Linked DNA regions of Homo sapiens: region 1 is linked to region 2. Evidence: fine-mapped expression QTL. Tissue or cell type: whole blood. Region 2 holds a variant in brackets; the other region holds the start of a gene. All regions are shown on one strand. Distances are between the middles of the regions. Region 1 holds the start of ATIC (5-aminoimidazole-4-carboxamide ribonucleotide formyltransferase/IMP cyclohydrolase). Region 2 holds the start of LINC02862 (long intergenic non-protein coding RNA 2862).

Region 1 (15,424 bases), 33 kb before region 2:
GCACATGCCTATAGTCCCAGCTACTTGGGAGGCTGAGGTGGGAGAACTGCTTGAGCCTGGGAAGCAGACAGAGGCTGCAGCGAGCCATGATCGCACCACTGCACTCCAGCCTGGGCAAGAGTATAATCCTGTCTCAAAAAAAAAAAAGAGAGATATATTTAAAAATCTTTTTCTTCAGTTCTTGATCCCAGTTTCTTGAGCAATAAAATGTAAAAAAGGTAAAAGGAATTTTACAAAACTGTTGCTAGTTCCAGAACAGTCTATGCGTTTCTGTAAGTCAATGGCTTGTCTGATGATCTGTAGCCATTCAGCTTTATTCACCAAATTGTACCACAACTGACAAACTAGGAGGATACCAGTTTCTTGCCGTTTCGGTTTATATACAATTCATTCTTAGGTGAACGAACAAATGTAAAGCACTTTGAAAAAAAAAATTCCTTTGCAAGTCAGTTACGCTGTGATGCTTTCTTCTAAGTTTGAACTATTTTAAAAGTATTTTCATACGATGAAATCTAAATATCTTCAGCAACTTGAGCAGGAAACACCAGACTCTAAATTAGGTATCAGGTCAGGACTAATAGCAAGCAGAGGAAAACAATCTGAATTCATCAAGTAGTAAGACAAGCTGGATTTTAAACCAGTTCTAACGTATTATGAAATCTGGCAGCAACTTCATAACATTAACTTTATATGTAAATTTCTCTTGAGCCTTTTTCTTCCTTTATTTTAGGACGCTATCAACTAAAATATTCCTGGAAACCACTGACTGTTTTTACATTAAAGATACCAACCACTTACCAGCATGGACTGCAGGATGCAAAGTTTTCACACGTCCCCCCAACATTTCAGGAAATCCCGTCAACTCAGAGACATCTCTGAAAAACAGATAAACAGAATGGTACTACTGGTGTGGCTGAATTGTAATTTTCACTATTCAAAGCATCTACTGTTTTCATTTCAAGAGATTTTGAGCCTGAATTCAACGTGAAAATTCTGATTTTTTAAAGTATTTCACTATATTTTATTTCTTAAGTAAAATTCTATTTACTTCCGAAAAAAAGTTTATTTAATTTATTTCCTAACTGTTGTGTATGTTCAGGGATAATTGGTAACTACTACAGCACTGGTTTTATAATTTTCAGAGCATTTAGAAACTGAATCATAAGCCATACTCATTAAATATTACTAAGACATACAACTGAGAATTTGGCAGTATGTAACAAAAAGCATTAAAAATATCCTTGGCCGGGCACGGTGGCTCATGGCTGTAAACCCAGCACTTTGGAAGGCTGAGGCAGGTGGATCACCTGAGGAGGGGAGTTTGAGACCAGCCTGGCCAACATGATGAAACCCCAGCTCTACTAAAAAAATACAAAAAATTAGCCGAGCGTGATGGCGGGCACCTGTAATCCCAGCTACTGGGGAGGCTGAGGCAGGAGAATCACTTGAACCCAAGAGTTGGAGGTCGCAGTGAGCCGAGATCATGCCACTGCACTCCAGCCTGGGCGACAGAGCAAGACTCCATCTCAAAAAACAACAACAACAACACATGAAGATGGCATATCAAGTGAGTGAAGACATAAAAGACTGTTTAATAAAGTGGTGTTGCTATTGGAATAACGGGTTAAACCCAAACAAAAATATATTCCTTATGAATCAAAGGTTTAGCATTTAAAAAATCATGCATGTAGCAAAATTAAATATGTGAGGAATGCTTTCCAAGTTTTAAACAAAAGATTGAGAGTTCTGATTACAGAAATGTTAAATAAAAAGTTTTACATGGGAAAAAAAAGTAAACTAGAAAAAATAATCACACAATGTGACAAAGGGTCAAGTGAAGGACAGTAAATATTAATCCATATCACAAAGCAGACCCCTAGAAAGTCGTAACCACGAACACTCTGGCAGACTTTATAAGTTGTAATGGTGTGTAAAAATGCCCACAATATATAAGAAAAAATAAAGCAGGGGCCAGGTGGGGTGGCTCACACCTGTAATCCCAGCACTTTGGGAGGCCAAGGCGAATGGATCACCTGAGGTAAGGGAGTTCCAGACCAGCCTGACCAACATGGTGAAACCCCGCCTCTACTAAAAATACAAAATTAGCCAGGCATGGTGGGGCATGCCTATAATCCCAGCTACTTGGGAGGCTGAGGCAGGAGAATCGCTTGAACCCGGGAGGCGGAGGTTGCAGTGAGCCAAGATTGTGCCACTGCATTTCAACCTGGGCAACAACAGCAAAACTCCGTCTCAAAAAATAAATAAATACATAAAAATAAATAAAGCAGGAAGCAAAACTGCATCTATCTTCTGTGTAAGCTATGAAATAAAGTACATGCTTATAAAAATGCTTGAAGAAAAATATACTAGCATGTTAAGAATTACAATCCATTTTTACTACCTTCTTTATAGTTGTCCATATTTTCGAATTTTCTACAATCAACATATATAGTTTTTGAGATGGGATCTCACTATGTTGCCCAGCCTGGAGTACAGTGATTATTCACAGGCAAGATTACAGTCCATGGCAGCCTAGAACTCCTGGGCTTATTAAGTAATCCTCCAAGTAGCTGAGACTATAATAAACACTTTAAAGCAGCAAGTTCTGCCAGTAAGATACGGAATTTCCTGGGTAGATTCTCCTGTTAAGGGGAGCCATTTGCAAATGACTGGTGTTTGACCAATGACACACACAGTTCCAACATCCACAAACTGGTGACATAAGTGTTTTCAAATTCAAAATTTCTTTTCCTGGGGTTCAGGAAATAAAATCCATTTCCTCCAAATGAAGACAGTCACTTAAAACTTAGAGAAGGCGGATTTATTTCTAGAATTAAACATTTGGGGTAATTAAAAAGCTTGCTACTCCTTTGAACTGAAGAATTTATACATAATGGCTGTAGTCTCGGGAAATAATTCTATGTATGCTCACTGCTGTATACTCACTAATTAAAATCCATCAGTTTACCTCATGACAAGGTAATGGTTAACTTCCTGGGATAAAATTATTGCAGATAACAACACCCAAAAATATGCTCAGAAGCAGCCTCAGAACCAAGATCTTTTTTTTTTTTTTTGAGACAGTGTTTCTCTCTGTCATCCAGGCTGGAGTGTAGTGGTGGAATCTCGGCTCACTGCAACCTCCACCTCCTGGGTTCAAGCAATTCTCCTGCCTCAGCCTCCTGAGTAGCTGGGATTACAGGTGCACGCCACCACACCCGGCTGATTCTTTTTTGTATTTTTAGCAGAGATGGAGTTGCACCATGTTGGCCAGGCTGGGCTCAAACTCCTGACCTCAGATGATCCAGCAGCCTCAGCCTCCCAAAGTGCTGGGATTACAGGGGTGAGCCACTGCGCCCAGCCAGAACCAAGACCTTGTCCAGGCATGGTGGATCACACTTGTAATCCCAGCACTTTGGGAGGCCAAGGCAGGCAAAATTGCTTAAGCCCTAGAGTTCAAGACCAGACAGACAACATGGTGAAACCATCTCTATGAAAAATACAAAAATTAGTTGGGCATGCTGGTGTGCAGCTGTAGTCCCAGATACTCAGGAGGCTGAGGTGGAAGGATTGCCTCAGCCTGGGAGATCGAGGCTGCAATTAGCCATGATTGTGCCACTGCACTCCAGCCTGGGTGACAGAGTAAAACCCTCTAAAAAAATATATATATATAGCTTTCTCCTGCCCTCTTGCCTCTCACCCTTCATTCTTCCCTGAAGTCACAGAAATGAGAATTTCTCTTCCCCAGGGCAGTTTACAGAAACTAAAACTCTTTTTCCCCAAAGCCAGTCATAAGATTTAAACTTATGATTCTAACTTTCCACTGGCTTTCTGTCTAGGAGCTGGACGTAAAGAAATCCTCTCATCTCCTTGCCCATTAGTAGGTCAGGAGATCCTTAGGGGGTGGAGAAAGAATTTTAGAGAAGCCAAGAAGAATCTGGACAGACAGGCTTTCCTGGCTTTCTCCACCTCAGTCTACTAGCATACACCATATCCTTGCTGTCCAATCATACTTCCACCTTTCTGTCCATTCTTTGTTGAACCTAAACATAAAAATGGATGGTTTTTCCTCTGTCTTTGGGTCTTCATTCTGAAGGCTCTCATGTCATGTAAAACTTTGTTAAATAAATTTGTTATGCTTTTCTCTTATTATAACCTGTCTTCTCTTATAAAAATATTGGCCGTGACGTTTACGATGGAGAGCAAAGGATCACACCTTTCCACCCCTACAAAATCTTGGCCTCGGGTGCGGTGGCTCACACCTGTAATCCCAGCAGGCCAAGGCGGGCGATCACTTGAGGTCAGGAGTTCGAGATCAGCCTGGCCAACATGGTGAAACTCTGTCTCTACCAAAAATACAAAAAAATTAGCCAGGCGTGGTGGCGGGCGCCTGTAATCCTAGCTACTTGGGAGGCTGAGGCAGGAGAATCGTTTGAACCTGGGAGGCAGAGGTTGCAGTGAGCTGAGACAGTGCCATTGCACTCCAGCCTGAGCAACAAGAGTGAAACTCTATCTCAGAGAAAAAAAAAAAAAATCTTGGCCTCTTAACTAGCTGTGTAATCTCGAGCGAGTTACTTAACTACGTTGTGCTTAATTTCCTCACCTATAAAATGAGGATAACACTACCTAAACTAAAAAGTTGTTATAAGGACTATAAGAGTTTATATATGTAAAATACCACTGCAACTGAATAAAATACCACTGCAACTGAATGTGGCCTTTGTTGAAGAAAAAACAATTGCTCCAAGTTGTTTACATTTCATTCAGTGAACTTTACTGTGCTGGGGTCTAAATAAATCACTCATGGTGAACTTCTTATCCTTTCATAGAAGAGAAACACATTTACATTTCCAGTTTTTAAAGAAGATATGACCATAATGAAGATAAGTGAGGAGTGGGTATAGGTACAGAAACAAGACTAATCAGTTGATAAGTACCTAAAGTGGGTGACAGATATAGGACCCAAGGGATCATTATACTTTTCTACTTTTGATTGTGTCTGAAATGTTTCCATAATACAAAGTTTGGTGGGGAAAAAAAAGAGACTACAGATGAGGATTTTGCTTTACGAAGGTTCCATTACCATAGGAGGACCCAACTTGGCCCAATGGAAAGCACGCAGGTCTGGACTTTGAATTCTCATTCGGTTGCTGATGAGCAAAGAGCCAACTTGCCTGCCACGATTCTCACAGGTTTCCCATGAAAACCACAGAGACAAGACGCAAAAAGACATCCGAAAATATACAGTTATGTATTTGTTAATAAAGTAAGGCATTCTTACCATCTGAACTTGTTAAACTTAGGGAAGCTGTGTACTGCTCACATAGCTGGGAACTGCACAAAGAAAAGGTAATAACCTACCTCTACATGGATCTAGAAACCAAGAAGCAAATTTTCCACATGGCAACAAAAAGCAGACAGATATCCTTCATCTCTTTCATTCTAAAATATGTTTCAGGGGTGGTCATCTCGTTCCTCCCAACTCTCACTGCCGTTTATTAAATAGCTATCCTATAGTTTTTTTCATTTTTCTACCTTTCAGTAGACTTCCTCCCTCTCCTCCCAGAATGCCACTCCTTGACATCAGCAATGGCATCCTGGTTAATCATTTCTAAGTCCCTTCTTTCCATGGCCTAGTCAGCTAATGAAGGGCTTGTGAACGTGGGAATGAATGATTTGCACCTTCATATGGTTACCAGAGATTCTAAGGGAAGGCAGGTAAATTGGAATCTTCATGATGTCGAGTTTTATTAAATCACCAGTCAAAGTAACTGAAGTTTTCCTTGCATAACAAGTGGCCCACCTAAGTTAATCTGTTTAAGGAAGGGGCTAAGACTAGTGTCCTAAAATCAGGAACAGCACGGGTTCCAATCCTACTTTTCCCTTACTCAACTGTTTAAACTTGTGCAGAAGATGCTAAATCTGTCCAGTGTGTTGTCCAGGGTCTTTCTCTGTCACCCAGGATGGAGTGCAGTAGTGCCATCTCGGCTCACCACAACCTCCGCCTCCTAGGTTCAAGCGATTCTCCTGCCTCAGCCTTCCCAGTAGCTGGGATTACAGGCGTGTGCCACCATACCGGCTAATTTTTGTATTTTTAGTAGAGACGGGTTTCACCATGTTGGCCAGGCTGGTCTCGAACTCTTGACCGTAAGTGATCAGCCCACCTCGGCCTCCCAAAGTGCTGGGATTACATGCGTGAGCCACCTAGCCCAGCCGTCCAGGGTCTTAAAAGTTGCTAAATCTCTCTGAGCCTCACTTTTTTTCCCCATAAAGTGGGGAAGTATTACACCAACCTCACAGCGCTACTGGGAGGAGTAAATAAGGCGTTTTGCTGCTGGTGCCTGGAATACAATACTTCCTGGTTAATGTGATCACACTCCTTTCTGATGGAACTAGCTATGCCTTACCTGACTGCCAGACCAGCATCCCTGAGAGCTTTTGCAGTCCCTCCGGAAGCGACCAGATTCAAACCAAGAGCGGTCAGGTTTCTTGCAAATTCCACAAGGCCGGTTTTGTCAGAGACACTAAATAAGGCTGAAAGAGAAGACATTTTTTCTCATGATTCGCAGCACATTGCACTGTGTTCTGCAAGGCCTTGGGAGGGTCTGGGGGAGGAGATTCTCGAATCGCAAGGCCAGCACCTGGACCCTGCGTTCGCAGGCCTGGTCCGGGCCTCCCCAGGTCTTACACCCGCGAGCTGCTCTAAGGCGGGCCCCACGCAGGCTGCGGCCCGGCCGGGGAGCGGGGACGCTGGCTTTCAATCCCGCAGCGCCGCCCCTGCAGTGCCGGGTCCCGCCGGCCGCCGCCAAGGCGGGAGCGTGGGGGGCCGCAGGCGAGGACGCAGACCGCGCCGCTCCGCTAGGGCCTCACCGAGCTGGCCGGGAGCCATGGCTGCAGGCACTGGGTTCAGGGCGAGCGGGAGGCAGCAGCGGCGGCACCACGTGCGCAGGTAGGAGGGCTGCCGGGATGTGGCGGCTCAGGAAGCGAGGGGGCGGAGCTGTTTCCGGGCTTATCACGTGGCCCGCCGGCCCTGCCCGGCGCCCTGCTCTGCTCAGTTTCAGATGCAAGATCCGCGCCCCGGGGCTGAAGGGAACGGCGGGATGGGGTGGGGCTCTGCCTGGCGCGCCTGGGCGGAGTGCTTGGGCTGGAAGGGATCCTGCCTGCGATCCCGAAGTCCAGGCGTGGGAGCCAGCGATCTGCCCACGACCCCAAAGTGAGGCCACTCCACGGCCTCTGGGGCAAATGCCTGTTATTCTAGGCAGCCGGTCCCCAGAAGCTGGAAAGTACGTAAAAGTGCCAGAAGCTCCCATGCTGAAAACTAAACAAAAGGAATAGTTCATATAGCGGCAAAGCTGGAAAGTATCTGGACAGTTATCTACCATCCTCCCTTTTTGTTTGTTGTTTTTTTGTTTTTCTGGGTTTTTTTGTTTTTTTTGTTTTTTTTTTTTTTTTTTGAGATGGAGTTTCGCTTTTGTTGCCCAGGCTGGAGTGCAATGGCGCGATCTCGGCTATGTCACGTGCAACCTGCAACCTCCACATCCCGGGTTCAAGAGTTTATCCTGCCTCAGCCTCCCGAGTAGCTGGAATTATAGGCAGGCGCCACGATGCCCGGCTAATTTTTGTATTTTTAGTAGACATGGGGTTTCGCCATGTTGGCCAAGCTGGTCTCAAACTCCTGACCTCAGGTGATCCGCCTGCCTCGGCTTCCCAAAGTGCTGGGATTACAGGGGTGAGCCACCATGCCCAACTTGTTTTTTGTTTGTTTGCTTGCTTGCTTGTTTGCTTGTTTGTTTTGAGACAGGGTCTCGCTCTGTCTCCCAGACTGGAGAGCAGTGGCACCATCTCAGCTCACTGCAACCTCTGCCTCCCAGGTTCAAGAAATTCTCCTGCCTCTGCCTCCACACCCGTCTAATTTTTTGTTGTTGTTGTACTTTTTTTTTTTTTTTTTTGTATATTTAGTAGAGATGGGGTTTCACGGTGTTGGCCAGGCCGGTCTTCAACTCCTGACCTCAAATGATCTGTCCACCTCAGCCTCCCAAAGTGCTGGGATTACAGGTGTGAGCCACCGTGCCCGGCCCCATCCTCCTTTTTAATAGGCTTAAAAAATAAAACCAAGGACCAATGATTTAAGTGAGGGACTCCAGAGGCCACAGATGACAGTCAAAACGAAGTGAAATTGACATTCGTTGTTGATTTTCACGTCATAAAATTATAATTTAAATATTAATTTATAATACTATTTTATACAATTTAGTCAGTATTGTAAAAGTGCCTAAAAACTACTTAAAGATGGTGTCTTCTTGCAAACCTGTAAATATTCCTGGATGAGAGGAATGATGACAGTCAAAAGAAGGTAAGAGAAGACCTTTCTTAATTCATTAAAAACAGGGAAAGCAAAATTGAACACATTTGTTTCTTTCTAAAAATGACACCTTTGCCACAAAATAAATACATATTGTGGTCTATGAGTCTTTTTTGTGTTATTAGAATTATATTCCAAAGTAATAGCATTGTTTATCTTTTAGTCTGAGCTCACAGCTGTAAAAATGAGTCTATTTTCTCATTATCTGCATGCTATTTATTTTTGTTTTTCCTCTTCCTTTCTCTAATTCTTCCCATCTCTTTACTCCCCAAAATAAATACCTATTGACTAGAATCAATTTTTTTTTTTTTTTTTGAGACAGAGTCTCGCTCTGTCACCCACACTCTCGCTCTGTCACCCACACTGGAGTGCAGTAGCGCGATCTCGGCTCACTGCAACCTCTGCCTCCCAGGTTCAAGCGATTCTCCTGCCTCAGCCTCCCGAGTATCTGGCACTACAGGCGCGTGCCACCATGCCTGGCTAATTTTTGTATTTTTAGTAGAGATGGGGTTTCGCCATGTTGGCCACGCTGGTCTCGAACTCCTGACCTCAGGTGATCCACCTGCCTTGGCCTCCCAAAGGGCTGGGATTGCAGGCGTGAGCCACCGCGTCCAGCCTGGAATCAATTTTTTGACCTCTAAATATGTTAGCCCTTTGCTCTGAACACTTCTCACATTCCTACGAGGAATATATTAAGATTATCGCATGTCTTCAGTGTGTTTGCCAAATTTGAATTTAAAAAGGATATTTCCTTGGCCAGTCACCATCAGGTTTTTACAGGAAATCGAAAGCAAGGAAAGGAGAAAACAATGCTGACATTTATTGATAAGGGGAAATAAACAGTTGCTTCGGCATTATGCATTTGTCTGTCATGTGAATTACAAATATTTATTCGATTCAATACATTTTTATTGAGCCTTTTCTGCTTGGATGGCAGAAACTCAGTGTCAGAAGACAGATAAATATCACCTAAGCACTGTCCTCAAGGAGCTCATGATGGAATGAAAATGTAGACACATGAAGTATAACTAAAAAATATTAATAGAGGCCGGGTGCGGTGGCTCACACTTGTAATCCCAGCACTTTGGGAGGTGGAGGCGGGCGGATCACGAGGTCAGGAGATCATGACCATCCTGGCTAACACAGTGAAACCCTGTCTGTACTAAAAATACAAAAAATTAGCCGGGCGTGGTGGTGGGCGCCTGTGGTCCCAGCTACTCGGGAGGCTGAGGCAGGAGAATGGTGTGAACCCGGGAGGCGGAGCTTGCGGTGACCGAGATTGCGCCACTGCACTCCAACCTGGGCGACAGAGCGAGACTCTGTGTCTCAAAAAATTAAATAAATAGGCTGGGCGCGGTGGCTCACGCCTGTAATCCCAGCACTTTGGGAGGCCAAGGCGGGCAGATCACGAGGTCAAGAGATCGAGACCATCCTGGTTAACACAATGAAACCCCATCTCTACTAAAAATACAAAAAATTAGCCAGGTGAGGTGGCGGGCGCCTGTAGTCCCAGCTATTTGGGAGGCTGAGGCAGGAGAATGGCATGAACCCCGGGGGGCGGAGCCTGCAGTAAGCCGAGATCGGGCCACTGCACTCCAGTCTGGGCGACAGCGAGACTCCATCTCAAAAAAAAAAAAAAAAGAAGAAAAAATTAAATAAATAAATAATAATAATAGAGAAAACACGGCATTAAACTGATTTTGTAGAGCCTCTTTCATTACAGACTCTTCCATTTACAGATGTTTACTCTGGGGCCTGGTGTAGTGTCTCATGCCTGTAATCCCAGTGCTTTGGGAGGCAGAGGTAGGAGAATCACTTGAGGCCAGGAGTTTGAGACCCACCTGGGCAACATAGTGCATGCCTGCAGTCCTAACTACTTGAGAGGCTGAGGTGGGAGTTCGAGGTTACAGTGAGCTAAGGTTGCACGGCTGCATTTCGGCCTGGGCTACAGAGCAAGACCCTGTCTCTTAAATAAAATAAAATAAAAAAATAACAGGCTAGGAGTGGTGGCTCACGTCTGTAATCCCAGCACTTGGGCAAGCTGAAGCAGGTGGATCACTTGAGGTTAGGAGTTTGAGACCAGCCTGGCCAACAGGTGAAACCCCGTCTCTACTAAAAATACAAAAAGTAAGTTGGGTACAGTGGCTCACGTCTGTAATCCTAACACTTTGGGAGGTCAAGGCGGGTGGATTGCCTGAGCTCAGGAGTTCAAGACCAGCCTAGACAACATAGTGAAACACCGTCTCTACTAAAAAAATACAAAAAATTAGCCAGGCATGGTGGCGGTGCCTGTAATCCCAGCTACTCGAAAGGCTGAGGTGGGAGAATCGCTTGAACCAGGAGGTAGAGGTTGCAGTGAGCCAAGATAGTGCCACTGCACTCAAGCCTGCACTATAGAGCGAGACTCTGTCTCAAAAAATAAAAATAAAGATATTTACTCTGATTAATTCTCCCATAGTTTTAGCATCCCGACTTGATAGGACTTAATATGTTAATGACAAAAAGAGTAAATGAATTTTTTACTAGCTTTGTGATCCTGGCCAAGTCACTCCATCTTTTGGGGACCTTTGTTGCTTTACCTGTAATATGGACATAATATTTTTTCTGCAGTCCTCATCATATTTTAAGAAGCGAATTAAGTACAGGTAGTCTACTGAAAGTACAAACTGCAAAGAGACTAAGAAGAGTAAAATAGAGGTGTAATCTTCTTGGTTCCCTTGGTCTGGCTAATCAGGTATCTTTCTGGGCACCAAGGTATGTCTTCAAAGATCTAGTCACCAGCAAGCTAGTGTCTTAGAAAAGGGAGATGTTCTCATAAAGATGAGAATGCATCTTTTACCAATGGTTTATCGCAGGATTATTGTTTCAGAAAGACAGAAAGGGCGTGTATACACTATAATGATTACATTTTCATTTCTTCTTACTTCACATACCTCCAAAGAGAAGCTTGAAGACCCTAAAATCATAGTAATATACCTTAAAATATTTAATGTACATGAATTGTTTCAGTTCTTTGAAGGTGTTATAATCTGATTTTGCCCCTATGTTGTTTGTTTCTTGTGTAAATTCATCACTTTTTTTTTTTTTTTTTTTGAGACGGAGTCTCGCTCTCACTCTGTCACCCAGGCTGGAGTGCAGTGAAGCAATCTTGGCTCACTGCAAGCTCCGCCTCCTGGGTTCACGCCATTCTCCTGCCTCAGCCTCCCAAGTAGCTGGGACTACAGGCACCCGCCACCACATCCGGCTAATTTTTTTTGTATTTTTAGTAGAGACAGGGTTTCACCATGTTAGCCAGGATGGTCTTGATCTCCTGACCTTGTGATTCGCACATTTCGGCCTCCCAAAGTGCTGGGATTACAGGTGTGAGTCACCGCGCCTGGCCAAGCTCATCACTTTCTTTGAAAAACCTCCATCTCCCTTCCAAGTCTTGGATCTCCTATTGGACTCTAACGATTAATAAAGCTGCATCATCTTGGGCTGACTTGCTCCAAGGGTTTGTCCACTCAAGTGGATGTAGTTTATCATATAAAGGGATTCCCAGGAGCTTGGTATAAAATTCCTCTCTACTGTAGTTCAGAACATTAAGCTAATTTATGACCTAGTATGAAATTCAAACATTTTTCTTGAAAGTCCTGGAGATGTTTGGAGATATAAAGCTGACAATAATACAAAGAATGAATTGGAATAGTAGGAAGTAGAGAAACTGGTTAGGAAGGTTTTGCATCCACTCACACATAAGAAGGTGGAAAAGAGGTTATCTATGTGAGACGATTCAAAATAGGTAAAATTAGCAGCATGCAGGGATCAGTGACATATAGGAAATATTAGACACAAAAAACTAGGGATGATTCCATCATTTCTAGCTTCGTCATATGAGTAGCTGGTGAGGCAACACCCAAAATATAAAAATATATGTAAGAGAAAGAACAGTTGTGGCATGTGTTTATTTTAATTTAAGGTCAGTGTGAGTGGTTGGGTAAATAAGTTTGAGTTTCTAAATATTGATTTTAAAGTCTAGGTAATTGGTGCACACAGTTAAAATCATACAGCAAATTGTTGGAAATACAAATGAAATTCAGGAATAAAAGTGAGGTTAAAGATAAATAAACGTGGAAAATTAATGAAATTCAAGTAGTAGTTGAAGCCTGGAAGAAGATAAGCTTGCTTAATTAGGTCTAGTAGATAACCCGAGCGACAAAAAAAGCTAAAGAAAGAAAATTCATTCAGGAAGGCATTTAATGTTTTTTGGTTTTTTGAGACTGAGTCTTGCTCTGTCACCTAGGCTGGAGTGCAGTGACGCGATCTGGGCTCACTGCAACCTCTGCCTCCTGGGTTCAAGCAATTCTCCTGCCGAGTAGCTGGGATTACAGGTGCATGCCACCACGCCCGGCTAATTTTTGTATTTTTAGTAGAGACAGGGTTTCACCATGTTGGCCAGGCTGGTCTTGAATTCCTGACCTCAAGCGATCTACCCATCTCGGCCTCCAAAAGTACTGGTATTACAGGCATGAGCCACTGTGGACCACAGGTGAAGAGACACTTTATCCTTTTGGATAAAATAAAGCAGAGAAGAGGGACAGGGCAGAGGTAGCTGCACCTTTAGGAAGGCCTGGCAGAGAATTTCTTACTGACAAGGTACATTTGAGTGAGGACTGGAGGGCTGGGTGGGGGATAACAAGCCACAGGGTATTTGAAGGAGAAAGTTCCAGGCAGTGGGAACAAGTGCAAAGGCCGTGCATAGGGAGTGTGGCTGTAGTGTCTAAGGAATGTCAGGAAGGGTGGTATGGTAGCAACAGAGGGAACTTCACTAGGAGAAGGAAGACACAATGTCAGCAATCGGGTTGGATAAGGCCGTGTGGGCACATCGTAAAGACTTCGGCTTTTATTCTGAATGAGAAAGGAAGCCCTTGGAGAGTTTTGGGAAGGAGTGACATCTAATTTACCTCTTTCACACACTCACTCTGGTTGTATGAGAGCAAAGGTGGAACAGGGGAATCCCTACGAAAGCTCTCACAATGATCCAGGACCTTGACACTAGGTGAAAGATGAGGGTGGCACGGCCCAGAGTGGCAGCAGTGGACATTGGAGGAGGTAATTAAATCCCAGATATATTTTGAAGGAAGAGCCAATAAGATTTGTTGACAAATTGGATGCCAAGTTTGAGAGGAAGAGAAGGAGCATTGATGATCGCTTGTACAGCTGGAAGAATAAAGTTGACATCAGCTGAAATTGGGAAGGATACAAATGTAGTAGCCCTGGGGGGAAGAACAGGGTTAAGTGTAGGACACTGGATACCTATGATACTGTGTGTCAAATACTGCCAGCAGGTTAAGTCTGATGAGGACTGAGAGTAACCATTAGATGTTGGATTATCCTGACAAGGACACATTTGGGGAAGTGGTAGAGATGAGGGTCTGGCTGGAGTAGGTTCAAGAGAGAATGAGGGGGCTGGGCATGGTGGCTCACACCTGTAATCCCAGCACTTTGAGAGGCTGAGGTGGGCGGATCATTGATGTCAGGAGCTTGAGACCAGCCTAGCCAACATGGTGAAACCCGTCCCTACTAAAAATACAAAAATTACCTGGGTGTGGTGGGGCGCACCTGTAATCCCAGTTACTTGGGAGACTGAGGCACGAGAATCACTTGCATCTGGAAGACTGAGGTTGCAGTGATCCATTGCACTCCAGCCTGGGCAACAAAGCAAGACTCTATCTCAAAAAAAAAAAAATGAGACACAAAGAGGGAAGGAATTGGAGATGTGGAATAAAGATGACACTTTTAAGGAGTTTTGCTCTTAAACAGGGTTTGTCAACCTCAAAACTATAGACATTTTGGAGCGGATAATGCTTTATTGTGTGTGTGTGGCGGGGGGAATGGGGGGTGTGTCGTGAGCATTTCAGGATGTTTAGTAGTATCCAAGCCTTCTACCACTAGATACCAGTAGCACCCCTACTCCAGTTGTGACAACCAGAAGTGTCTCCAGACATTGCCAAATGTCTCCTGTGGGAAAAATTGCCCCCAGATGAGAACCACTACTCTAAAAGGAGAGTAGAGGAATAGGGTGGTAGCTGGTGGTACAAGTGGGTCCAGGGAGCTTATTGACATTTTGTTTTTGTTTTTTTTGATATAGGGTCTCACTCTGTTGCCCAGGCTGGAGTGCAGTGGTACCATCACAGTTCACTGCAGCCTCGACCTCCTGGACTCAAGATCCTCCTTCCTCAGCCTAGCAAGTAGTTGGAACTACAGATGCACGCCATCACATCTGGCTAATTTTTTGTAAAGACTAGGTGTCACTATGTTACTCTGGGCTTAAGTGAGCCTCCTGCTTTCAGCCTCCCAAAATGTTTGGATAACAGGTGTGAGCCACCACACTCAGCCTTGTTTTTTCTTAATCTGAAAGAATAATCACATTTGTTTGTCCATAACACTGATCGATTCAGTAGTGAAGAGGGAAATCTGATAATGCAAGACAGAAGCAAGTCTTATTATAGAGGGATCTACTTAGGGACTGTGGGTGGGGAGGGAAAAGCTTCTTCAAGGAAATAATTTTTTCTTTTTTTAGACAAAGTTTCACTCTTTTGCCCAGGCTGGATGCAGTGGTGCGACCTCAGCTCACTGCAACCTTCACCTACTGGGTTCAAGCGATTCTCCCACCTCAGCCTCCCAAAAAGCGGGGAGTACAGACGTGTACCATCACACCCAGCTAATTTTTGTATTTTTAATAGAGACAGAGTTTATCCATGTTGGCCAGGCTGGTCTCGAACTCCTGGACTCAAGTGATCCAGCCACCTCAGCCTCCCAAAGTGCTGGGATTATAGGTGTGAGCCACAGCACCTGGCCTCTGCCTCTTATTTTAGATTACTTATGTCAACCACTTAACTCCAGTCTCTATCATATCTCACACTTGGCTGAATAGCCACCATCAGCATTAATAGTTGTTACAGCTTTCTCAGCACCTGGACTCCTACTACCAATGTTTCTACGAATAAAATGTCAGAATGAATCCAAGAACAAATAGATCTTATGTTACCTCTGTCTCTAAAGGCTTTCTTGATTGCTGTA
Region 2 (15,424 bases):
ATGACCATGTTTCTGAGAACAAAATGCAGCATCTTAATTTCCCCATCTTTAAGCAGAGGGACGAGCCATGAAGCGATTTCTTTTTTCTTTTTTCTTTTTTTTTCATGTCCAAGCTTCGTCTCCTCTCTTCCCAAGGGGAGTCCTTCCAGTTAAACTTATTTCTATTTGGCAAGAAAAGGGCAGAAAGTTCGTAAGCATTGTTATTGGTTGAATTGTGTTCCCCCAAAAGATATATTGAGGTCCTAATCCCCAGTACCCGTGAATGTGACTTCGTTTAAAAATAAGGTGTTTGCAGATGTACTCAAATTAAGACAAGGTCATACTGAATTACAGAGGGCCAGAACCCAATATGACTGGTGTCCTTATAAGAAGGGGAGAAGAGACACGGAGATACACACACACACACACACACACACACACACACACACACACAAGAAAGCCACATTAAGGCAGAGGCACAGAATGGAATTATGTTGCCATCAAGCCAAGGCAAACCTGAGACTACAATAAGTGTAGGAGGCAAGGAAAGATCCTTCCCAAGAAGCATCAAAGGCTGGATACCACGGGCAGCACCTTGATTTTGTACTTCTGCCCTGCAGAAGTATTGTTTTAAGCCAGCCAGTTTGTGATATTTTGTCACAGCAACCCTGGGAAACTAATACAAGCATTGTCATCATTCTAGGTACCACTAATGGCCTGCTACGTGACATTCACTTGATTGATTTGTGCATTAGATGAGAGTGTAGGTTTTGGAGTCAGAATTCCTGGGTTAAATCCTGGCTCATAAAAGCTAGGTCTGTGGGCTGGGCGTGGTGACTCACGACTGTAATCTCAGCACGTTAGGAGGCCAAGGCGGGTGAATCACCTGAGGTCAGGAGTTCGAGACCAGCCTGGCCAACATGGCGAAACCCCATCTCTACTAAAAATACAAAAATTAGCTGGGCGTGGTGGTGTACGCCTGTAGTCCCAGCAACTTAACAGGGTGAGGCAGGAGAGTCACTTGACTGGTAAGGGGGAGGTTGCAGTGAGTCGAGATCGCACTACTGCACTCTAGCCTGGGTAACACAGCAAGACTCTGTCTCAAAACAAAAACAAAAACAAAATCTAACTAACTAACAACAACAACAAAAAACTAGGTGTGTGACCTAGGGCAAGTTATATAACTGTTACCTATTATTTCTATTATTTTGTCAAATCATTAGAATAGTCCTGAAAGGTAGATATTAATATCCCCACTCTTTTTTTTTTTTTTTTTTTTTTGGAGACGAGGTCTTGCTCTGTCACTGAGGTTGGAGTGCAGTGGTGCAACCATAGCTCATTGTAACCTCAAACTCCTGGGCTCAAGTGATCGTCCCACCTTGGCCTCCCAAAGTGCTCGGATTATAGGTGTGAGCCAGCATTCCTGATCTAATATCCCCACTTAAGAGAAGAGTCTTCTGAGACATAGAGAAGTTCACCATTTGCCCATGGAAATACAGTTAGTAAGTGGAACAGTTGGATTTTTTTTTTAAACCCTCCAACTTCTGGACTCAAGAAATCCTCCTGCCTCAGCCTCCTGAGTAGCTAAGACTACAGTTGTGTGCCACCACACCCAGCTAACAGGTGTTTTTAAAATACGTTTTAATTATTTTGAAAGAGTTTCAAAGTTTCAGAAAAAATACAAGAAAAACACAATAAACTCTCACATACCCTTCACTCAAACTCCTCAATTGTTTTGGAACGATCAAATTGGCATGATCTTGGCTCACTGCAACCTCTGCCTCCTGGATTCAAGCGATTCTCGTTCCTCAGCCTCCCAGTTACCTGGACTACAGGCACGCACCACCACACCTGACTAATTTTTGTATTTTTAGTAGAGACAGCATTTCCTTACATTGGCCAGGCTGGTCTCGAACTCCTGACCTCAGGTGATCCACCTACCTCGGCTTCCCAAATTGCTGGGATTACAGGCATTACAGGTGTGAGCCACTGCACCTGACCTGTTTGGGTTTTTTTTGTGTGTGTGTGACAGCATCTCACTGTGTTGCCTAGGCTGGTCTCAAACTCCTGGACTCAAGTGATCCTCCTGCCTTAGCCTCCCAAGTAGCTGAGATTACAGGTGCATGCCACCGCACCTGGCAATTTAAAAGAAAAAAAAACATATTTGCTTCATCATTGGCACTCTCTCTCTCTCTCTCTATACACACACACACACACACACACACACACACACATATATATTCATTCCACAGATGTATCATGTATATTATATATTCATATATAACACATATTTTATATTTTTACCCCTAAGCCATTTGAGAATTACAAACGTGCCCTATTACCTTTTGACAATTCAGTATGTAGCTTCTAACAACAAGAGCACTCTCCCACCTAATGAGAGTTCAACCATGAAAATGAGAAAATTGGGGTTTATTCCTTACCATGTTGAGTGTTTTTTTTTTTTTTTTTTTGGTAAACTTTTTGTCTGAGAATAACATACATACAGACAAGGGCACAAATCATAAGTATACATCTGAAGGAATATCCAGCAAGTGAACACACTTGCATAACCAGCAGACAAATGAGGAAATAGATTATTATCAACATCCAAAAGCTCCCCACCCTATGTCATATCTTAGTTGCTTCCTCCTCCTCTTCAAAGGTGACCATTATCCTGATTTCCATCACCATAAATTAGTGTTGCCTGCTTTTGAACTTTATATGAATGGAATTACATACTATGTACCCCCCCTCCTTTTTTTTTAGATGGCGTTTCACTCTTGTTGTCCAGGCTGCAGTGCAATGACACCATCTCAGCTTGTCTCCTGGGTTCAAGCCATTCTCCTGCCTCAGCCTCCTGAGTAGCTGGGATTACAAGCATGCGCCACCACACCCGGCTAATTTTGTATTTTTAGTAGAGATGGGGTTTCTCCATGTTGGTCAGGCTGGTCTCGAACTTCCAACCTCAGGTGATCTGCCCGCCTCAGCCTCCCAAAGTGCTGGGATTACAGGCATGAGCCACCGCACCCGGCCCCCACTTTTTGTTTTAAAAAACAGCTTTTTTCCACTCAATATTACATATGTGAAATCTATTATTATTGCTGGAAATATCTGTAATTTGTTTATTTCTCATTGCTATACAGTATTTCTTGTGTGAACACATCCCAATTTATCCTTTCTACTGCTATTGGACATACAGATCATTCTCTGTTTTTGGCTATCAATATTTTTGTACTTTTTTGGTGCACATGTGTATACATTTCTGTTGGGTTTACTACTAGAAGTGGAATGGTTATGTGACAAGGTGTATGCAGTTTAGCTTTAGTACCTCCTGTACTGCCAAATAATTCCCCAGAGTGATTGTACACAATCTTCAGCAGTATATGAGAGTTTCATTTGCCTCATATCCTTACCAGCACTAAATGTTATCATTATTTTTTATTCTAGCCCTCTGGTGGGTGAACAGTTTTTCTCGTTGTTGTTTTCTTTTTTTTTTCTTTTCTTTTTTTTTTTTTGAGACAAGAGTCTCGCTCAGCTGCCCAGGCTGGAGTGCAGTGGCACAATCTTGGCTCACTGCAACCACCATCTCCGGGGTTCAAGTGATTCCCCCATCTCAGCCTCCCGAGTAGCTGGGGTTATAGGCACCAACCATCATGCCCAGCTAATTTTTGTATTTTAGTAGAGACAGGGTTTCACCACATTGGCTGGTCTTGAACTCCTGACCTCAGGTGATCCACCTGCCTCGGCCTCCCAAAGTGCTGGGATTACAGGCGTGAGCCACCATGCCCAGTCTCATTGTTGTTTTAATTTGAATACCCTATGGCTAATGAGGTTAAGTATCCTTTTATATACTTACATACTACTTGAATATACTCTTTTGGGATGTGCTTGTGAAGTGCTAGATTTTAAATATCCTTACCTGACCCCAAAGTTGATTTTTTAAATTTATTTTTCTAAATTCTTCATATACGTCATGAAATAAGTAAAGTTTTACTTGGGAGAGATGAACTATGCTGTAACTGTACCAGCATCAGTTGTTTTAGTTATCTATTTATCACTGCACACAGAGCAAATTACTCCAAAACTTACTGGCTTCAAACAATAATAAACATTTATGATAGCATAAATTTCCTGAAGGTGAAGAATCCGGGGGCACATTAGGTCATTCTGGCTCAGGATCTCTCATGAGGTTAACAGTCAAGATGCCAGCTGGGGCATTTGAGAGGGGCTGGAGGACTTGCTTCAAGATGGCCGACTCACATGGCTGGTAAGTTGATGCTGGCTGTTGGCAGGAGGCCTCTGGTCCTTACCACATGGCCCTCTCCACAGAGCTGCTTGAGTGTCCTCACAACACGGTGGTTGGCATCCACTAGAGTGAGTGACCCAAGAGAAAGCAAGGTAGCAGCTGCAATGCATTTTATGACCTAGCCTTAGAGGCCATACTACATCATTTTCCCAGTATCCCATTGGCTACACAGGTTAGCCTTACTGAATATGGGAAGGAAACTACACAAGGGCCATCTTGGGGATTAGCTGCTACACTTGTCATTATAAACTTCATTGCCCAAGCTCTTTTAAAAATGTAAATAGAAGGAAAATTACACTTTTTAAAAATTATGTTTTTTGAGACAGTCTCAATCAGTCTGTTGGCCAGGCTAGAGTGCAGTGGCACGATCCTGGCTCACTGAAACCTCTACCTCCTGGGTTCAAGCGATTCACCTGCCTCAGCCTCCCAAGTAGCTGGGATTATAGGCGCATACCACCACACCTGGCTAATTTTTGTATTTTTAGTAGAGACGAGGTTTCACCATGTTGGCCAGGCTGGTCTCAAACTCCTAACCTCAAGTGATCTGCCCGCCTCAGCCTTCCAAAATGCTGAGAATATAGGTGTGAGCCACTGCACCAAGCCTGAAAATTCTTTACCATCAAGAATGAACTTGAAGAAAGATTATTCATTTAATACATGTGTATTCTAATGGAATACATTCTCTGTTTTTGGTTATCAATATTTTTGTGCATTTTTTTGGGTGCACATATGTATACATTTGTGTTAGGTTTATTACTAGGAATAATAATTTCCTAGTTTACTCCTAGGAATATTTATTAGTTTATTCCTAGTTTATTCATATAAATTCTTAGTAGTTTATTACTAGGAATAATGGAAAATGTAATTAATTGATTTTAGGATCAGCAACTTGTATTGCTTACCAGTGTTTCAGATGTTTTTGAAAGTAAATGGATTTGGATAATTATCATAGTTTGTTTTACCCCTGTCTCTATATAAGGAGTGCCTTCTTAAATATACTTATAAGAATATTGATTAGAACTTCAGAAGTCATGTATTTAAGATTGTAAAATTGGTTGCATATGTTGTTTTAGTCTGCTTGGGCTGCCATAACAAAATACCACAGACTAGGTTCCTAAAACAACATAAATTTATTTTCTCACAGTTCTGAAAGCTGGAAGTCTGAGAACAGGATGCCAGCATGACTGAGTTTTGGTGAGGACTCTCTTCCTGGCTTGCAGCCAGCCAGCTTCTCACTGTGCCCCACACTGGCCTTTCCTTGGTGCACATATATGAAGAGAGAAAATAAGAACTCTTTCCTCTGTCTTTCTCTTCTCATAAAGCTTTAAGTTCTATGGGATTAGGAGCCTATATGACCTCCTTTAGCCTTAATTACCTTCTAAAAACCCTGTCTCTAAATATAGTCATGTTGGGGGTTAGGGCTTTGACATAGAGATTTTGAGGGGACATGATTCAGTCCATAGCACGCATAAGCATGTCTCAGGTTCTCCTCTCCTCTCTTTTCCTCTCTCTCATCTTTGGTGATATAAGGAACAAACAGATTTGTGAATATGAAAGTATTTTTCAGTACAGTCATCACCTCTACAGAAGACTGGCCATCAGCAGCTACTTTTCTAGGTTAGTTGTGGAGTAACAGATGAACAAAGGGGAAAAGGTGAAAATGGATGGTGAACCTGGGCAGGTCAGAGCAATGCATACTAAAGGTTTAATTTCTTGGAAGACTTGTGCAAAGTGTTTCCTTCTTTCCTTCCCTTTCTTCCTTCCTTCCTTTTCCTTTCCTTTCTTTTTTCCTTCCTTCCCTCCTTCCTTCCCTCCTTCCTTCCCTTCCTTCCTTCTTTCCTTCCCTCCCTCCCTCCTTCCTCCCTCCCTCCCTTCCCTTTCCTTCCTTCCCTCCCCTTCCCTTTCCACCTCCCTTCCCTTCCCCTCCCCTCCCTCCCTCCTTCCCTCCGTCCCTCCTTCCCTCCTTCCTTCCTTCCCTCCCTCCCTTCTTCCCTCCTTCCTTCCTTCCCTCCCTTCCTCCCGTTTTCCTTCCCTCCTTCCCCTCCTTCCTTTTTTCTATCTTTCACTAAGTGAACCAGTCATCTTTCAATTTTTTTTTTTTTTCTTGAGACAGAGTCTCGCTCTGTCGCCCAGGCTGGAGTGCCGTGGCGGGATCTCGGCTCACTGCAAGCTCCGCCTCCTGGGTTCACGCCATTCTCCTGCTTCAGCCTCCCAAGTAGCTGGGACTACAGGCGCCCGCCAACACGCCTGGCTAATTTTTTTGTATTTTTAGTAGAGACGGCGTTTCACCGGGTTAGCCAGGATGGTCTCGATCTCCTGACCTCGTGATTCGCACATTTCGGCCTCCCAAAGTGCTGGGATTACAGGCGTTAGCCTCCCACGCTGGCCTCATCTTTCAATTTTTAACACATCTGAGGAATATGAATAATTCCAAGTGAAGTAGACATTCATAAAATGCTTTTGTTCTTCCATCATTTAAATCCAAACTTTTCCATGCTGTCTTATTATGTTGGTGCAAAAGTAATTGCGGTTTGTGCCATAACTTTCAAGGTCAAAAACCGCAATTACTTTTGCAGCAACCTAATAGTTTGCTTACAGGAATCTAACAGTCGTTATTCTCTTGGTCAAATTGAAAGCTGAAAAATAATCTTTAAAATATAGATCTCTATGTTTATTTCAAGTCTTCTTGGCATTTTCTAAATTAAATAATTTCATAAAACTAGACCAAAGCTGTATGAGCTAAGATATTTATCACAGTATCAAAATAATTAACATTTACTGAGAAAAGTCAGACACTGTGATGCACTGTTTTATATGCATAATCTTTATTTACTATCACAACCACCCTATGAAGTAGCTTGTATAATAATCCCAATTTTTACAGATGAGAAAATTGCACTTTAGAGAGAGTACGTAACTTGACTAAAGTCACATAGCTAATAAGTGGCAGAGCCAGCCAGGACTTTTTTTCTTTTGTTTGTTTGTTTGAGACAGGGTCTTGCTCTGTGGCCCAGACTGGAGTGCAGTGGCACAATCTCTGCTCACTGCAACCTCTGCCTCCTAGGTTCAAGCGATTCTCCTGCCTCAGCCTCCAGAGTAACTGGGATTACAGACACATGCCACCATGCCCAGCTAATTTTTTTTTTTTTTTTTTTTTTTTTAGTAGAGACAGGATTTCACCATGTTGGTCAGGCTGGTTTCAAACCCCGACCTCAAGTGACCCACCTGCCTCGGCCTCCCAAAGTACTGGGATTACAGGCATGAGCCACCACCGCGCCTGGCCCAGGACTTTATGTATGTGTGTGTGTATATATATATATATATATATATATTTTTTTTTTTTTTTTTTTTTTTTAAGGCAAAGACTCGTTCTGTCTCCCAGGCTGGAGTGCAGTGGTGCAATCTTGCCTCACTGCAACCTCCACCTCCTGGGTTCAAGCAATTATCATACCTCAGCCTCCCAAGTAGCTAGGACTACAGGCATGCACTACCACACCCAGAATTTTTATATTTTTAGCAGAGACAGGGTTTCACCCTGTTGACCAGGCTTGTCGGAAACTCCTGACCTCAAGTGATCCACCCACCTCGGCCTCCCAAAGTGTTGAGATTATGGGCGTGAGTCACTGCACCCACCACCAGCCAGGACTTTAGAGTCAACAAGTCAAGTCTTTCTGACTCTAAAAGCTCTTCTTAACCTCTAGAAAAAGTAAATATTCAGCAATAGGAAACTCCTCACATCTATTATAACTTCAATATAACAGAATATTATGCAGCCATTGCAAATTATGTTCTTGGTTAATTTTTATTGACTAGAAAATGCTTATATTTTAATAGCAAACAAAAGAATAAGCAAGGTGCTGTGGCTCATGCCTGTAATCCCAGCACTTTGGGAGGCCAAGGTGACAGATAACTTGAGTCCAGATGTTCAAGACCAGCCTGGGCAACATGGTGAAGCTCCGTCTCTACAAAAAATAAAAAAAATTAGCTGGGC[G/A]TAGTGGTACATGCCTGAAGTCCCAGCTATTCCAGAGGGTGAGGTGGGAGGATCACCTGAGTCCAGGAGATGGAGGCTGCAGTGAGCCATGATCATGCCAGTGAACTCCAGCCTGGGTGACAGAGCAAGACCCTGTCTCAAAAGCAAACAAACAAAAAAATAAGATTCACACTAATGCATACATTATTATCTCAGCTATGTAGAAATATAAACATTTATGAGCTGGGTGCGGTGGCTTATGCCTGTAATCCCAGCACTTTGGGAGGCCAAGGCAGGTGGATCACGAGGTCAGGAGATCGAGACCATCCTGGCTAACATGGTGAAAACCCATCTCTACTAAAAATACAAAAAATTAGCCAGGCGTGGTGGCAGGCACCTGTAGTCCCAGCTACTCGGGAGGCTGAGGCAGGAGAATGGTGTGAACCCAGGAGGCGGAGCTTGCAGTGAGCTGAGATTGCACCACTGCACTCCAGCCTGGGCAACACAGTGAGACTCCGTCTCAAAAAAAAATAAAAAAAGAAAAGAAATATAACCATATATGAATACCCATAGAAAAAATGGGAAATAGTATATACAAATATTAGGATTGCTTTATTTAAATGTGGTATGATTATGAATGATTTTGCTTTCTTATTACATATTTCTGTAATGAACATGTATTACTTTTATAATCAGGGAAAAGATAACAGAAATTTTTAATACTTATAATATGAGGGAGGAAATATAAAGACTTGGTTTTTATGATTAGAGAAATAAGTCCATTTAATAACTGCTGTATCCATGAAGTGCAAAACCTTCAATATGCGATCTGTTTCTGACATGATGGCTATCAGATACTCAGATACATACAAAGTAATATTCTCTTGCTTGCTGAATTCTCTTATTCTTTCTGCCTTATGTTGGAGATAAAGTAGAAAGTGTGTGTTTCTCATTGGGAAGTTGGCACTTGAATGAGACTGCCGCTTTTCTCAGCTTAAAAAAGATAAAAGGAGTTATCAAGTAATGTTTTCTTTCACCTAAGGATGTTGGTCCCACTCCAACAATTGGAATTGATTGAACTCCTGTGCTTGCAAATTTAAAAGCCTTTTACACAGGGGATCTACTCACTCAGAATTTTACAAATCAGTGGATGAACTCAAAACAAAAACCCATTACAGGGCACCTTAATGTTTATCTGTTTGGCAAGATAAACACTTGTAAACAAGCACTTTCAACTGTGAGCTTCGATAATAACACTATGAGATCTGTACTGGATGTTAAAAATTTACATACAACTGTAAAGATAGGACAAACCTAAAGAAGAAAATTGCTTTTTTAAAATTAAGTTTTCTGATCCATATTCTTAATTACATTGTATTTCATTTATCTAGACCACAGCCACTTCTCTTGACTTTTTCCTTGATAGCATTTTTATTATTGCCTATGGAACGTAACATTGCATGACACAAGTATGCCATTGGTATTTGATTAAATAGTACTGCTTCCTGAAAGCCTGGAAACCTTCAATCAGGCAAAAGAAATGATATTAAATAGCCTTATGTCTGATGAACATAATAACTGCTAATTAATTTGTTATTTAGCCCTGAAATTGTCAAACCTAAATGTGCTTTTTTTTTTTTTTTGAGACAGGGTCTTGCTCTGTCACCCATGCTGGAGTGCAGTAGCTCAATCATAGCTTACTGCGGCTTCAAACTTCCAGTATTAAGCAATCCTCCCACTTCAACCTTCTGAGTAGCTGGGACTACGAGTGTATACCACCATGCCCAGTTAAATATGTATATATATGTATATGTGTGTGCGTGTGTGTGTGTGTGTGTGTGTGTGTGTGTATACATATTTTGACAGGGGACAGAGTCTCTGTCTCCCAAGCTGGAATGCATTGGTGCGATCTTGGCTCACTGGAACTGCCATCTCCTGGGTTGGAGCAATTCTCCCGCCTCAGCCTCCTGAGTAGCTGGGATTACAGGTGTGTGTCACCATGCTCGGTTAATTTTTTGTATTTTTGATGGATGATGGGATTTCACCATGTTGGCCAGGCTGGTCTCGAACTCCTGACCTCAAATGATCCACCCGCCTCAGCCTCCCTAAGTACTGGGATTACAGACGTGAGCCACCACTCCCGGCCCAAATCTAAATCTTGACATTAAATTTAGACTTCAGAGTTTCATTGAGATTAATCAAACTTGAAATAAACTTTAAGAAAGATCATATCCAGGTAAAATCAGTTCTTTTGTCTAAAAAAATTAGTTATTACATTTCAACCAACAGACCAAAGGGCCTTAACCTCTAGATCAGTGCTTGACAAATTACTGATGGATCAGTCCCCAACAAAACACACACAATTTGTTACAGACCAATACTTTGATAAAACTGAAGAAGCAAAACAATGGAAAATGAAAAAGTCATGCAAAATAGAAACACATTTATAAATGATTAGTTTCAACAGATACACAACTATTGTCAAACTTTTCCAAATGTTTTAAATCCTTACTCTCATTTTCTGTGCTTTACTTGCCATGAACCAATAACAAACAATTCTGAGAGCCATGCAGATCACGGACCACATTTTGAGTAGCGCTGCTGTCGGCTCCCTGCTCACCTTAAAGTCCCATATGTTGCTGTTTGTCTTTGGCTGAGAATCTGATTAGGTAATGGAATGAGGCTGACTTCCTTATCTTCACCTGCAACTCCCCTTGAGTAGGTTTGCAGATTGTAATTATACCTGTGTGGTATCAAGATCTTTCACCTGTAGGGTCCTGATGCAACTGAGGTATTTATAAACACCGAGGCAAGTTCCCAGGGTTCAGCTGCCCGTGGTTTCAGGTGATGACTCCGCTGGGCAAATGTCAAGGACCTCCGTGAACAGCATAACCAGCTGAACCAGAGGGAAATTTCCCCAAATGTTTTACTCATATATAGGTGAAATAGCTAGTAGTTCCCGCACTGTGTATGATCATCAGAATCATAACAATGCAGTTTTAAAAATATGTTAGAACCAACTATAACTGCTGACTCTATTATTGTTCAAACTATTTCTAAGCGTTTTCTCCCCTCCTCATTGGTTGATTCCAACACCACAGGGAATGGAGGCTGCCCACAGCCAGAGTCTTTAGGGAAAGGATAGAGTCAGACTGCTCGGTCTTTCCTATCAGCAGAAGGCCACACTGGCTGCTGTGCTGTTCTGGGCATAGTCAGCATGATGATTGCTTTGAGAGATTTAGAATTGGCATTTCTTTAGCTGTTGCGCCTTCTTTCACACCAGCTGAACAACAGTTCTTAAAATGTGGCCCAGAGACTCCTACAACCATTTCAGGAGGTCTGCAAGGTAAAAGATCTTTTCATAGTAGTACTAATGTTATTTGCTTTTTTCACTCCCATTCTTTCATGAATGGGGTTTACAGTGGCTCCATAACGTGTAATGATATCATTGTTCCGATGCTTAATGGAATGTGTGCTTCTGTGCTCTTCGTGTATTCTTGTAATACCAATCTTAATTTCAAATATGATAAATATTGACAGATAGAGCCTGCGTAAACTACAGCCGTTCGGAGTCTGTAATATTTTTTAAGAGTATAAAGGGGTTTCGAGACCAAAAAGTTTGAAAATCACTGCTGTAGAAGAATAAATTTAGTTAATTGTGTCTACAATGAAATGTAGAGGCAATTTGGCCTAGGAGATTTTTCTTTTTATAGCGTCCAAAATGCTATAGTAGTGGGGCCATGCCGTGGCAAGGAAACATTCTCCTCTGGAGTGCCCAGAGGAAACACAGCCTTGCTCAAGACGCTGAAGGACTTCTGACCTTCAGAAATGTAATAAATCTGTGTTGTTTTAAGCCTTGAAGCTTTTGGTAATTTGTTACAGCCACAATAGGAGCTGAATATAGGCCAGGTGCGGTGGCTCACACCTGTAATCCCAGCACTTTGGGAGACCGAGGCAGGCAGATCACCTGAGGTCACGAGTTCGAGACCAGCCCGGCCAACATGGTAAAACCCTGTTTCTACTAAGTATAAAATTAAAAAAAAGCCAGGAGTGGTGGCGGACACCTGTAATCCCAGCTACTTGGGGGGCTGAGGCAGGAGAATCCCTTGAACCAGGCAGGCAGAGGTTGCAATGAGCCAAGACCATGCCATTGCACTCCAGCCTGGGCAACAGAGTGAGACTCCACCTCAAAAAAAAAAAAAAAATAGGATACAAATACAGATCTGTTTCAGAGAAAACAAAGACTTGTTGAGCACCTGCTAGGCACCAGGCCATGAGCAAAATTACATAGTCAGGGCTTACAAACACTAGGATTCAAATTCAGGTTCACCTGCATTCAGAGACCAAATCCTTTCCATGAATCTTTTTTTTTCTTTTTTTTTTTTGTCCCCATTCCAAAAGAAAAAATGTTCTATGGTAAAAGTGGTGCTATAAACTTTTGATTTTCTCTAAGGACAATTGTAGAATTTCAGTGCATGATCCATATTGTCAGAGATCATGAATATTGCTTAGGTCCTGATGGCACCTTGATCGTATGCCCTTACTTGACTACAATCTAGTCGATATGGATAGCACTGTGGGTAACTTTACAGGCACTCAGTGTGTTCCCCTGAGCTAAAGAAAGGAGGTATTTCCCCCACGTTACTCCCTGTATTCCTAACTATGAATCAACTCTCAGGTTAACTGCAGCATACTCATTTACTTCTGAAAATGAAACATGAGAATTGTTAAATGTCAAGCTCTGCCTCATGAGAAGGAAATTCTAAAGTGAATTCTTATTCAATATGGGTAAGAGAAGATTAATTGCTTTTTAAAAATTTGGTGATGAAACATGCTGGTTTTCTAGTCTAAAGGAGAGTATTTACTTATATCAATATTCAACACCAGTTGATTTGTAGGAATATTTTTAAGGCAAGATTGGTTTGAAAGCAATTAGGATGGATAGAATTTGCTTTGGAAGGTAGCTTAAATGTAAGCAAGGCATCAAAATAGCTTAAATATCCAAATATTCAGAGATGTAATTCAGAGGTTTCAGGAACATCATGTATTTGGAAAAGCCAAGTTGATAGTTCCACGCCATGAGATGGTGATTCATACAAGATGTCTCCATCTTCATTTTGCCTATTATCTTTCCCCCAGTTCTACACTGTTCCAAGGGTATATGCCAGTCATTTCTGAGTTGATATTAGGCCGGGACTCAAGATCACCAAATCCCTAAAAAACCACTTACAGTCACAACCATGTCTACTAGATTCCCCATAAGAGACACAATCCATGCCTTGATGGTGAGGCCTGGCCTGTGCACACTGTTTATTACTGTTTGGGTTTGGTGCCAAAATCCTTTTTGGAATTCCTAGACCTGGCGAATTGTGCTGGACTACATAGGGCTGAAAACATTCCTATGTGTCTTTTGTCAGAGGCCTAAATGAAGTTCCTCCAGATCTCACTCTAGTGGCAAAAAAAAAAAAAAAAAAAAAAGAGAGAGAGAGAAATCCAAAGAAAAATAGAATATAGGTGGGATGGTTCCCTACGCCCAAAACCTAGACACTCTACCCCAGGCCAGGCCTTCCTGTGGCAATAGGAAGTGGGGTGTGGGTGGTTGGTGAGAAAAGGCCGTTGGAGGAGTTCATTACTAGGTGGAAAGCAGGCCTGTCTTAATTGCTAGAGCGGCAGCTGGCGGAGACATCATTTTAATAAGACAAGTCCAAAATGACAGAGTCTCTAAAATCCCTAATCCAACTGGAGAGCATAGTTAGAGAATAAGCTTCTGCCTCCTTTTCTTACCATGACATTAAAAGTTCCACGCTCTGCCTCAACACTGTGGCCCAATAAAGATCCTCAGAAATTAATGTTGCTTCTCCTTAGGTGTCAAGGACAGGGAGGACTGGAGCTTTGATCTGACCCCATAGGCCAGCAGTGTATATTACCCCACAGTTAGCTAATGTTATGGTCATAATTTACCTCCTCAGGCCTGCCTGGGATCTGTCAGTTTTATCAATGGGGAGGTGAAACAGAAGCTGATCCTCTTCCCTACCAGCCTTCCAGATTGCCTGGGCTGCTTCATTCCTCCAGCATTCCATTTAAATCAAGGCAGGCACAAGACCTGCTGCTTTGCATTGTGATGGGATGCACCTGACAGGTAGCATCTGAGCACTCTGGGATGCTATGCAGCAGTGCAGCTACAAGCATGAATCAATTAAGTGGCGATTAGGTTCAGACTCTCAAGCAATGACATAGTCGGCTTCACACTGACTTTGCTATACATAAAATCCCCAGAAAGAATAATACCTTATCCAAACTTTCATTATATCTGGTAGTAGAATGAATATGGATCGATAATAAATTTTGTTCCAATATAACATTAGTTTCAGAAGAATTTTCTCCTTCTTTCCCTATCAAGAAATCAAATTATGGCCATAAAAATAAAGGCTTATCTACTTGAGGACTCTGTGAAGAGAACAATGGTTTGCTTTTTAATATTAACATTTTAGCTTGTATTTGAAAATAAGCTTGGGTGATTTTATACAAGAGAGAATTAAATATGTTTCTCAGAACATGAACTTACATTTGGATGTTTTGGAAAAATAACCTTTTTTACATGACAATGGAATTAGATCTTATAATAATTTCAGGTTTTTGAATGAAACCTTTTAATTTTGGGGTATATACCAACTTTATAGATAAGAATGGAAAATAAAATAATGAAAATTCATTATACATCTGCCACCAAGCTTTATTAAAATAATATGCCGTATATGCTTCAATAGTTTCTGAATAAATGATGCAGTATAAGCATAACTGAGGCCACCTTCATTTTTCCCCATCTCATTACCCTTTCTTGCTCTGAAGGGTAACAACTCTCATGAATTCAATGTTCACTATTCCATAGTTTGCATATTTTTACTATATATACATAGAAACTATACAGTATTATTTTGCATACAGTCATTCTGTACATGTCCTTCTCCAAATTGATTTTTAAACTCACCATTTCAGACAGGATTTTTAACCTATGGAACCTGGGATGTGTAGAGGTATATAAAACCCCAAGCCTTTAATTTAGGATGCAAGGCCTTCAGGTGTTACATGAACCCCTGAAATTATAGGTACATGCACTTTTTTTTGAGATGGAGTCTCACTTTGTTGCCCAGGCTGGAGTGCAGTGGTGC

What was found.
Region 1: it holds the start of ATIC, and the variant in region 2 is fine-mapped to the expression of ATIC in whole blood (TOPMed, PIP above 0.99).

The regions. Positions count from the first base shown.
Region 1 is chr2:215,303,608-215,319,031 of GRCh38, reverse strand. It overlaps ATIC (5-aminoimidazole-4-carboxamide ribonucleotide formyltransferase/IMP cyclohydrolase), which reads right to left and starts at 6,973. Exons shown (of 16, transcript NM_004044.7): 1 at 6,871-6,973; 2 at 6,408-6,534; 3 at 799-875. The coding sequence starts at 6,889. LOC124907975 (a long non-coding RNA gene) reads left to right here and starts at 7,060. Exons shown (of 2, transcript XR_007088075.1): 1 at 7,060-8,353; 2 at 14,493-15,373. RefSeq lists silencers at 6,629-6,998, 7,009-7,088 and an enhancer at 6,619-7,269.
Region 2 is chr2:215,270,592-215,286,015 of GRCh38, reverse strand. It overlaps LINC02862 (long intergenic non-protein coding RNA 2862), which reads right to left and starts at 11,026. Exons shown (of 3, transcript NR_174956.1): 1 at 10,876-11,026; 2 at 8,333-8,408; 3 at 8,069-8,247. RefSeq lists an enhancer at 14,103-14,651. The variant G/A (reference allele first, on the strand shown) is at 8,277.